Linked DNA regions of Homo sapiens: region 1 is linked to region 2. Evidence: fine-mapped expression QTL. A gene starts in region 2. The other region holds a variant in brackets. All regions are shown on one strand. Distances are from middle to middle. Region 1 overlaps ZNF668 (zinc finger protein 668). Region 2 holds the start of STX1B (syntaxin 1B).

Evidence for each region. PIP is the estimated chance that this variant, and not a neighbour inherited with it, causes the effect. A credible set is the group of variants that fine-mapping cannot tell apart.
Region 1: its variant is the best candidate, but not a certain one, in a credible set for the expression of STX1B in subcutaneous fat (GTEx, PIP 0.55).

What each region holds. Positions count from the first base shown.
Region 1 is chr16:31,063,474-31,068,839 of GRCh38, forward strand. ZNF668 (zinc finger protein 668) reads right to left here. Exons shown (of 3, transcript NM_024706.5): 2 at 340-1,008. The coding sequence starts at 986. Among named protein-coding and RNA genes, the nearest start is that of ZNF668, 8.1 kb to the right of the region's middle. RefSeq lists enhancers at 177-804, 805-1,432. The variant A/G (reference allele first, on the strand shown) is at 2,615.
Region 2 is chr16:31,008,160-31,013,525 of GRCh38, forward strand. STX1B (syntaxin 1B) reads right to left here and starts at 2,479. Exons shown (of 10, transcript NM_052874.5): 1 at 2,208-2,479. The coding sequence starts at 2,237. RefSeq lists an enhancer at 2,515-3,016.

The DNA of each region.
Region 1 (5,366 bases), 55 kb after region 2:
AAAATGACCTAGACAAACCAGGCCCCACTCACACCTCCTGGTCTCCACAAAAGACCCTCAGAACTGCCCAACTCCAAACCCCGCCCCCTTTCCAGCTGGCCTACAACGGAGGCCAATCTGACCCAATCCCATTCTCAGAGATCAACCTCAAGGTGGTTGCCACCTCTGCCCAATCAGGGGCACCAATTTCTCCCACATGCCTAGCCCCTCCCCTTGGATCTGCCATGCCCACCTTCCCATTGGCTCACTTTACCCTGAGACTCAAACCCAGGCCCCATTGGCTGCAGCAACGCTGTCGCCCTGCCCCGGAAGGCGCCCTGCCCCGGAAGGCACCCTCACCGCTCATGGTTGCGGAGGTCCTTGAGCTCCGCATAGGCTTTGCCGCAACGCTCACAGCTGTAGGGCCGCAGGCCAGCGTGAGTACGCCGGTGCTTGCGGAACACTGAAGGGTCAGCAAAGCTCTTGCCGCAGTCGGCGCAGGCGTAAGGCCGCTCGCCTGTGTGGCCACGCTGGTGGATCTTGAGCTTGGAGAGCGCGCCATAGGCCTTCGGGCAGTGCGCACAGCGGAAGGGCAGTTCGCCAGCGTGCGAGGCCAGGTGCACGCGCAGGCACACGGGCTGCATGAAGCGGCGGCCGCACTCGGGGCACGGAAAGGGCTTCTCCCCCGTGTGGCTGCGCCCGTGGCTGCGCAGCTCGGGTGCCGTCTTGTAGGCCTTGGGGCATAGCGGACACGCATAGGGCCTAGGCTTGGCCGCGGAGCCTGACACCTTCTCCCCACTGGCTTCCTCTGCCTTAGCTTCTGTCTCTGGCTTTGGCTTCACCTCGGCCACCTCTTCAGAGCAGTCTGCCGGCCCATGTGTGGCAGCGTGGCGCGCTGCCCTGGGCGCGTTTGGAAATGTCTTGGTACAGGACAGGCACTTGTAGCGGCGGCCCGAGCGCTTGTAGCCGGGGGCTGGGGACCGGGCCTCTGCAGCCTCCACTTCCATGGCCTTGGTGAACGGGGTTTCTCTGCAAGAGAAGCAAAGTTAGACCAAAGCCACATACCTTCGCCACTCCTGAAAGCCTCAGAGAGAACCCTATCTCATCTGCATTTCTCACCTCGGAACCCACACATCCTTCCTGCCCAGCATTCCTGGCTCTGACATCCTGCGTTCGTTTCCTCCCTGATCTGCTCATTGAAGAAAGGAGTTGGACCAAGTGTCCGCAGAGCCACTAAGAAAGGAGGCTGAGGGTCACAAAAGATTCACCTACACGTCCCCCCCCGCCCCCAACGGGCTTTTCCAAACACTGTGGCATTCCCAGAGGCCCAGGTTCCATCTGTCTCACCATCTTCCTTCTTCAGCTCAGTGTCCAAGAACTATGCCAGGATAAAGAGTGTACCCAGACGTGGGCCTGGCCTGAAGGTCTCCAAGCGCCCAGAAAAGACAGACCTGGGACCAGAAAAGGGCTGAGCCAATGGGCTAAATCTGGTAGCTGGCACTGTCTGGAAGTGACAGGTCCCCAGCATTTGTGTTTTCTTTCCTCCTCTGGATGGTTAGTCCTCAGAGACAGCAACTGTTCACACAGAATTCTGGCCTTGCACAGCTGTACGGGCCTCCGCCCCAGACTGGAATCTGTCCACTCTCTGCTCTGGAATCTTGTTGGCCTGTTCCCACAACTCTGGTAATGGAGAATCACTCAAGGCAGCCTGAGCCATTGCTAGCAGCTGGAAGCCTCTTTCTGAGTCATAACTGATGTATCTGATCTAACATGGCCTCCTGGGATACCAGCTCTAGCTGAGATCCCTACTTTCTGGTCCAGAACCCAGACGCCCTCCACCCAGCTGCTCCTGGGGATCATGGTTGGGAGGAAACAGGATTAATGGCTGTATTAGTCTTAACACCAGCTCATCCTCCCTGGGGGATGAAGGGAAGAGGATTATGGCAGATCCACTTAAGGAGTGCTCAGCAGCTGCTGCTGGGGGAAGGGGTCTGAGGAGTGGGGGCTGCAGGGAGCCAGGTGTGCCCAGAGGCTAGGGGGCCTACGTTCTACTTGCAGCCCTGTGGATTACTATGAGACCTCAGTGAAATGAGTGTTGTTTATAAGACTATTTCCGCCCGGCTGGGCGTGGTGGCTCACGCCTGTAATCCCAGCACTTTGGGAGGCCGAGGGGGGCGGATCACGAGGTCAGGAGACCGAGACCATCCTGGCTAACACAGTGAAACCCCGTCTCTACTGAAAATACAAAAAAATTAGCCGGGCGTGGTGGCGGGCGCCTGTAGTCCCAGCTACTCGGGAGGCTGAGGCAGGAGAATGGTGTGAACCTGGGAGGCGGAGCTTGCAGTGAGCCAAGATCGTGCCACCGCACTCCAGCCTGGGCGACAGAGCAAGACTCCGTCTCAAAAAAAAAAAAATAAAAAGACTATTTCCTCATCTGGACACGTTAGGGGTTGGTGGCTTCTAAGTTATGACACTGGGGTTCAGGAGGAGGAAACTGAGCTGAGCCACGAGGGTGCTAGGGGAAATACAGAGACTCAGGGCCCCTTATGCCAGGAAAGGGCGGGAGAAGCAGCTTACCTGGTTGACCCAGGGAGGACACAGGAGCCCCTGACGCGTGGCAAGGGCCACATCCTTA[A/G]AGTCAGCACCCTTCTGCCTGAAATCCCGGCCTCAGGCCTGCACGCTGCCCTCCCTCCCCAACCCCATGCAGCCGGTCTTCTCCCAAAAGTAATGAATGATGTTTCCTGTTCCCTGCTCAAGAACTTTCCATGGCTTCCACCACACCATGCAAATCCCCAGGTCCTTCCTGCTTGTTCCAAATCTGACAAGTCCTTCACTGGAGCCCCACTTCCACCAGGAGGATCCTCAAGCATCTCCCCTTTGGGTTTGGCCCCAATCCCACAAAACTCCATCTTATTCTCACTTGGTTATTTCACTTTTCCCACTAAATCCTAGGGCTTAGCCAGGTGTGGTGGCATGCGCCTTAAGTCCCAGCTACGTGGGAGGCTGAGGCGGGAGGATCCTGTGAACCCAGGGGTTCGAGGCTGCAGGGAACTATGATCGTACCACTGCGCTCCAGCCTGGGCAACCTGGTGAGACCCCATCTCTACTAAAAATAAAAATTAGCAGATGTGGTGGCATGTGCCTGTAGTACTGCCTACTTGAGAGGCTGGGGTGGGAGGACTGCTTGAGCCCAGGAGTTCAAGGCTGTACCACTGCACTCCAGCCTGGGAGACAGGGCAAGACACTGTCTCAATCAATCAATCAATCAATAATCAATCCTGGGGCTTGAAGATAAGTTAAAGGGACTGAATTCTAACCTTTCTGATGACTTGAATTCTTCCTACAGTTTCCAAGGGATCCCTCCCTATTTCTGGATGAGGTACTCACTACCTCTTCCAGACGGTTTCTGGAGAGTCTGCCTGATAATGTTCCTCCTTAATAAAAATGATAGCTTGGGCCAGGTTCAGTGGCTCACACTAGCACTTTGGGAGACCAAGGCGGGTGGATCGCTTGAGCCCAGGAGTTCAAGACAAGGCGGGTGGATCCCTTGAGCCCAGGAGTTCAAGACCAGCCTGGGCGATATAGCAAAATCCCATTTCTACAAAAAATACAAAAATTAGCCAGGCATGGTGGAGCATGCCTGTACTCCCAGCTACTCCAGAAGGCTGAGGTAGGAGAAATGCTTGAGCCTAAGGAGACTGAGGTTGCAGTAAGCCAAGATGGTGCCACTGCACTCCAGCCTGGCAACAGAGTGAGACCCCATCTCAAAAATAAATAAATAAATAAATGATAAAAAAGATAGTTCACATTTACTGAGCACTCGCCAAATACCAGGCAGTATCCTAAACTCCTTATGTGTATTAGCTCAGTTACCCTTCATGGCAACCCCATGAGGAAAGTTCTATTATTCCATTTTCACAGATAAGGGAACCAAGGTCCAGAGAAATGGTTCAGTATTTTGTTAAGTGCCCAGTCCCTGAAGCCAAACTGTCTGGCTTCAGATTTTGCCTCCATCACTTCCCAGCTGATGTGACCGTGTGTAATGTACTGCATGTCTTAGAACCTCAGTTTTCTAATCTGAAAAATGGAGATAATGACAGTACTTACCTGACAGAGTTGGGTGAGGAATGAATGAGTCAAAAATAATTACTGTCCTCAATTATCAAAGCGTCTTCTTAGAGCCAGACACATTGCTGGGTGTGCTGGTTTATTTAATTTAATGTCTTATACCTTTCTGAGATAGGGATTCTTGTCCCTACTTTACAGAGGAATAAATCGAGGTTCCAAGAGTTAAGTGACTTGCCCATGGTCCCACAATGGGTAACCTAAGCAGCTGGGACTTCAGTCCAGGTGTTTAATTTGCCTTAAGTTGCTGGGGTCTTGCTCAGTGGTCTGGGGCCTCTTACGCTTGTCTGCTGCCTCCGCCAGCCCCACAGTGACCAGAACCCTGAGCTCAGGTCATACCTGTGTCTTCTCTCATCCTTGCAGAACTGCCCTGAGACCCTGGCCGGCACCCTTTATGTCTCTGCTTCCCTCTCAGAGGGCTTGACCCAGTGGTTCTGAGCTCTGGCCCTTCTACTGCCTCTTGCCAGCTCTGGGTCTCAGCCTTCCTATCTGTGAGTTAGACACCAGGTAGCTGGAGGGGAAATCCCTCCTCCCATGGCACTTCCCAGGGGAAAAGGTAGGGGAGTGCCAGGTTGGTCTCAGCATGCGCCCAGCTACACAAAGAGGCCAGGTAGGCTAGGTCTCTGTCTAACATCCCACCATTAAAAAAAAAAAAAAAAAAAATATATATATATATATATATATATATAATTTTTGAGATGGAGTCTTACTCTGTTGCCCAGGCTGGAGTGCAGTGGCGCGATCTTGGTTCACTGCAACCTCCGCCTCCTGAGTAGCTGGGACTACAGGCACCTGCCACCACACCTGGCTAGTTTTTTGTATTTTTAGTAGAGACGGGGTTTCACTGTGTTAGCCAGGATGGTCTCAATCTCCTGACCTCGTGATCCGACCGCCTCGGCCTCCCAAAGTGCTGGGATTACAGGCGAGAGCCACCACGCCCAGACTTTTTTTTTTTTTTTTATTAAAGAGCTTGAGGTAGGCCTCAGGAATCTGTATTTTAAATACACTCTGGATCATTCCAGCCAATACTTTTGTTTGTTTGGTTTTGAAACAAGATCTCACTCTGTCGCTCAGGCTGGAGTGCAGTGGTGCAGTCATGGCTTACTGCAGCCTTGACTTCCCAGACTCAAGCAATCCTCCCACTTCAGCCTCCCAAGTAGCTGGGACTACAGGCATGCACCATCATGCCTGGCTAATTTTTATTTTATTTTTAGTAGAGATGAAGTCTTGCTATGTTGCCTGGGCTGGTCTAGAACTCCTGG
Region 2 (5,366 bases):
TGCATCCCAGGCTCCTTGCTTTCAACTGTAGCAGGGAGACCCTTACGCTACCTGAATCTGTCAGCTTTTCCCACCCCGCCCGCCCCCTCTTGAATCTCCAGTTTCCCTGAGCTGTGACTAATACCAAAGCCACCACATCCACTCAGCCCCTTCACCCTTCCACACCACCTCCGGCAGCCACAGCCAACAGGATTCCTTACCTCTGAGCAGGGGCCCCTGACTCATTCATGAGGCCTCCCCCTCCCCTGCCTCCCCCTTACCCCGCTTAGCCTTTTCCCTCCCTCTTTCTCGAATTGTACCCCAATTCCACACCACCTGATCCCAACCCACTTCCATTTCCCTGGGTTTTGGAGTCATGGAATAGTCCTGGTAGCAGGGGAACTGGGTTCAAGTCCGGATCCCTCACCTGCTAGCTGTGTGACCTTTGGAAAGTTATTCAACCACTCTGGGCCTCAGTTTCCCCAACTCTAAAATGAAAGAGCCTCCCCGTCCACTTGCCAGGAGGTCAGTGGGGCTCTAATGACATCACGGATGAAAGCCTGCTCTGCAAACTGAGGAGGGGAATTGACAGCACCGATGCTGAAGCCGGCCTGCCTGGGTTTGAATCCTGCCTTTACCAGCTGTGTGACTTTGGTCTAATTACTTAACCTCTCTGAGCTTAGTGTCCTTATCTATAAAATGAGATAACATATATCTATATATCTAAAAAGATATTTATATATCTATGAAATGAGATAACCAGTCTCATAGGATTGCTGTGAGGATCAAAATGAGTGAATATGCATAAAACACTTCAAACAATGTTTATTATTACTGTCACTTTCCTCATGCCTGAGTGTATATTCAGTAAAAATGTAATAAAGAAACCTTTAAAATTCCCTCCCTCAGCCACCAGCTCCTCCTTGCTTCCCATTTGGCAACCTGTCTGTCCCCAGAGACAGCGGTCACTTGCCTCCAAACACCTTCTTCTCGTCTGTCTGTAACCTGGGTCCCCACCCCCAAATCCAGGGGACAGCTCTTCACCCCCAGTGCTGAAACTTCTGTTTCAAAGGCCAGAAAAGCAGAGACCTGTGTCAACCTAGCAGACAGGAAACCCAGATTGCAGTCTGCCCCCCACCCACTTGCTTGGTGACCTTGGACAAGTCCCTTCCCACGCCTGAATCTCAGTTTCCTCATCTGTCAAGTGGGGTAATAACCCCTGGGGTAACAACCCACCAGTTCCCTGTAAAGGCTCAGTGCATTGGGCAGCTCAGCCGGGGCCGGTACCCTTATTAACATAACACCACCAGCCCAGCACAGTGCGGACTGTCAGTGCTGCCTCCTCGGGCCCCAGGTCATTTCTCCAAATACCCCAGCGTCCTCCCTGCCCCTGAAACCATTCTCATCGAACCCCACTCCCCAGTTCCTCCAGGTAGCAGCCTCCACTGCAGTCCTTCCCCTGTCCCCCCAAAACCAGGGACTGCCTGGCCAGACTCTTGGAGCCGGGCCTCTTCAGGCCTGCAGACCTGGGGCCTGCATCAGCCCTTGACTGCCCGGGGTGCCCCAGTTCCCCCAAGCAGAGCACGGCCCGTGTTCCATGGCCCTCTCCTCTGCATCCCCATCTCCCACCTCTGGGTCACCCTGTCTCAGGCCCTGGCCCTCTGGCTCTCTCCGGAGGCCACCTCTTCCCTCCCTGTCTCGGAGAGATGCCCCCTCCCTATAGGGAGTGACACACGCGTGTGCACACACACACACACTTCATTCACTGCCAGGTGCTGGCATCTCAGTCCCAACCTGTGTCCTTCCCCGTAGCATCCCCTGAATCTGGGTCCTGCTAGACTCTCAGCCTGGCCCAGTCACCGCCCCCATGCTTCTCTTTGGCAAACCTGCCCAGGGGATGACAGTCTCCTCCGGTTTCTCCTGATATCCACTCTCTCCCATCCCCAGACCAGACCCCGGGGCCCTCCTGGGAATGCGGGGTGTTCGAGGCCCCTGAGACCTCTCCTGCCCCCTTGTGTCTTCATGGCCTCCAACCCCTTCCAGGCACTGTCCCCAAAATGCAGGTTCACTGGAGAGACATCAGGCGCCTGAAGATACTGGGGTGCTCCGGCTACCAACCTCCGATCTCATCCTTCGCCCCCACGTCCCAGCACCTCCCCCACTCCATCCCCACGCGCTCCCCCAATATTGGGGTCCCGCCCCCCCATTCTCCCCACCCCCAAGCTCACACTCCGCAGCTCTTGAGTCCGATCCTTCATCCTGCGACGGCTCCTCCTCCTCCTCCTAGTCCTCCTGCCTCTGCTGCTGCTCCGGGTCTCCCGCCTCTGTGCCGGAGGCCGGGGTCTGGGGGCGCCGGGGGGCGCCGCGGCCGCTGCGGGGGGCCTGCGGGCGGGGGCGGGGCCGGGGGCGACTGGCCGAGGGCCGGGCAGGGGCAGGGGCCTGGGCCGGGCTCGGCTCTGCCGGGCTGCGGTGGCGATGCGGCTGCGGCACAGGGTAGGATGGAGGGATGCGGGAGCCGAGCGCGGGGGAGGGGGGCGGAGGGAGGTGAGGAGGAAGCGAGGGCGGGGGGAGCGGGAGCGCGCAAGGAGCAGGGGGCATGCGCAGCACCCGGGCCGGGGGCGCCTGGGGGTTGTAGTCACGGGCTTGGGGGACACCCGAGGAGGGGGCGGGAGAGGCCTGGAGGCGGGTGGGGGTGGGCAGAGCCCGAGGAGCAGGGAGAGATGCGGAGAGCCAAGCGGAGATGCTAGGGTGGCCCGGGGGGTGGGGTGGCCCGGCGGAAAGAGGGGGTGACGGAATGAATTCAGGGAATAACCTGGGAGCCAGGATGTGGATCCCTTTCCAGGAGACACAGATCGCGGCTGTGTTTTGTGTCTGGTGTCTGCGTGAGGCTGCGCGCCGACCACCTCTGGGTGCGAGCCCATGTGTGTTCTTGCAGGAGGCTCTTTGGACACTATAAATAGAAAGACCGACCCTCTGTGTGGTTTTTACGATGCAGGGAACCAGCCAGGTGCTTGCTGAGAAGGACACGGGGCTTGTGTTGCACAGCCTGGGCCTCTCCCGCCGCGGTGGGTCTCGGAGCTCTGCTTGTCTGCCTCCAGGGACAGGGTGCTCACTACCTCCCAGGACCTCTTGGCCCATCTGCAGATGGCTCTGACTGTTGAACATGAAATTTGTCCTTAGTGGGAGGGGAAATCAGGTGCCCCTGAGGGTCTGAGTGACCTCCTGTTCTGATGCCCACCTCTCCTCTCCCCATCCTTACACCACACCAGCTCCTCCCACCCCCTGCAATGGGGCGCCGGTCCCCAATGGGACAGGTCTTGACTCTCAATCGATCCTCCTGCCTCAGCCTCCCAAAGTGCTGGGATTCCATGCCTGGGCCACCGCACCCGGCATTCTCTTGCCAGGTACCCAGTGACCTCCTTGGTGCCAAATCTGTGTCTGATAAACCCTCATCCCACACCGCCAGTCGGGCCTTACCATCCCTGACCTCTCAGCAGCATGTGACCCTGATGAGCCCCTCTTCCTGAAACCCTCCTGTCTGTGGTGCTCCGCCCACCTACCCCCCAACCTGATCTGTGAGTGTTGTCTCCCAGCCTCTTTCCAGGTCCTTACCTTTTTTCCCACAGCCCTTCAACCTCAGGGTTCCCTGGGCTCCGTCCATTCTCTCTTTTTTTTTTTTTTTGAGTTAGGGTCTCATTCTGTTGCCCAGGCTAGAGTACAGTGGTGCAATCTCGGCTCACTGCAGCCTCAACGTCCCAGGCTCAAGTGATCCTCCCACCTCAGCCTCCTGAGTAGCTGGGACTACAGGCACGCGCCACCACACCTGGCTAATTTTATTTTTTGTAGAGACAGGGTCTCACTATGTTGTCCAGGCTGGTTTTGAACTCCTAGGGTCAAGCGATCCTCCTGCCTCAGCCTCCCAAAGTGCTGAGATTACAGGCCTGGGCCACCATGCCTGGCATTCTCTTCCTTCTTTACCTGCATCTTTCTGCACCTCCGTGTCTGCAGTGCCCACATCTGTACCTGCGAGCCAGATCCTCCCCCTGTAAGACAGCCCCTACTATATGCCTAAGCTCTGAGCTGGGCACCAAGAAGACAGAGATTGAAGATGCCACCAGAGCCATGAGTAGATCCATGACTACAGTGGGCATGGCTAGCGCTGACGTGGGGACCTCAAGGAGGTGGCTGTCCCCAAAGTGTTCCTTCCTGTGTTCTCCCTCAGAGATGGCGTCATCTCCATCCACCCAGCCACTCAAAGCACAGAAAGCTGTCCTTGCCTCCCCGCCATTATAATGCCAGCACGTTCTGGGCATCCAACGTGTTGCATTCACTATGCTGGTAGCTCCCAGAAACCTCCCAACCTCACAGTAGCCACTGCTAAGATCCCAAGTGTATAGACAAGGACACTGAGGCTTTGCATGGTCACATAACATATCCAAGTTCACAAGGTTAATAAAGGGCAGGGCTGGGGTCTTGTTTGCTTTTTTTTTTTTTTTTCCAGAGACAGGGTCTCACTCTGTTCCCCAGGCTGGAGTGCAGTGGTGCAATCACACCTCACAGCAGCCTTGACCTCCTGGGCTCAAGCAATCCTCCCATCTCAGCCTCCTGAGTAGCTGGGACTACAGGTGTACACCACTGTGTCCAGCTAATTTTCTTTCTTTCTTTCTTTCTTTTTTTGAGAGAGAGTCTCGCTCTGTCACCCAGGCTGGAGTGCAATGGCGCGATCTTGGCTCACTGCAATCTCCGCCTCCTGGGTTCAAGTGATTCTCCTGCCTCAACCTCCCAAGTAGCTGTGATTACAGGTGCCTGCCACCATGCCTGGCTAATTTTTATATTTTTAGTAGAGACAGGGTTTCGCCATGTTGGCCAGGCTGGTCTGGAACTCCTGACCTCAAATGATCCACCCGCCTTGGCTTCCCAAAGTGCTGGGACTGCAGGTGTGAGCCACTGTGCCTGGCCCTAATTTAACTTTCTTTTTTTCTTTTTTTTGCAGAGACGAGATTGGTCCTAGCCTCCTGGGCTCTCACCTCGGCTTCCCAAGTGCTGGTATTATAGGCATAAGCCACTGTGTCTGACCTTGTTTGTATCTTTTGATTGCAAAGCCCATTCTTCTTTTCTTCTTTCTTCTTCTTCTTCTTCTTCTTCTTCTTCTTCTTCTTCTTCTTCTTCTTCTTCTTCTTCTTCCTCTTCCTCTTCCTCTTCCTCTTCCTCTTCTTTCTTCTTCTTCTTCTTCTTCTTCTTCTTCTTCTTCTTTTCTTCTTCTTCTTCCTCTTCCTCTTCTTCCTCTTCCTCTTCTTCCTCTTCCTCTTCTTCCTCTTCCTCTTCTTCTTCTTCCTTCTCTTTCTTCTTTCTTTTTTCCTTCTCCTTCTCCTTCTTCTTCTTCTTCT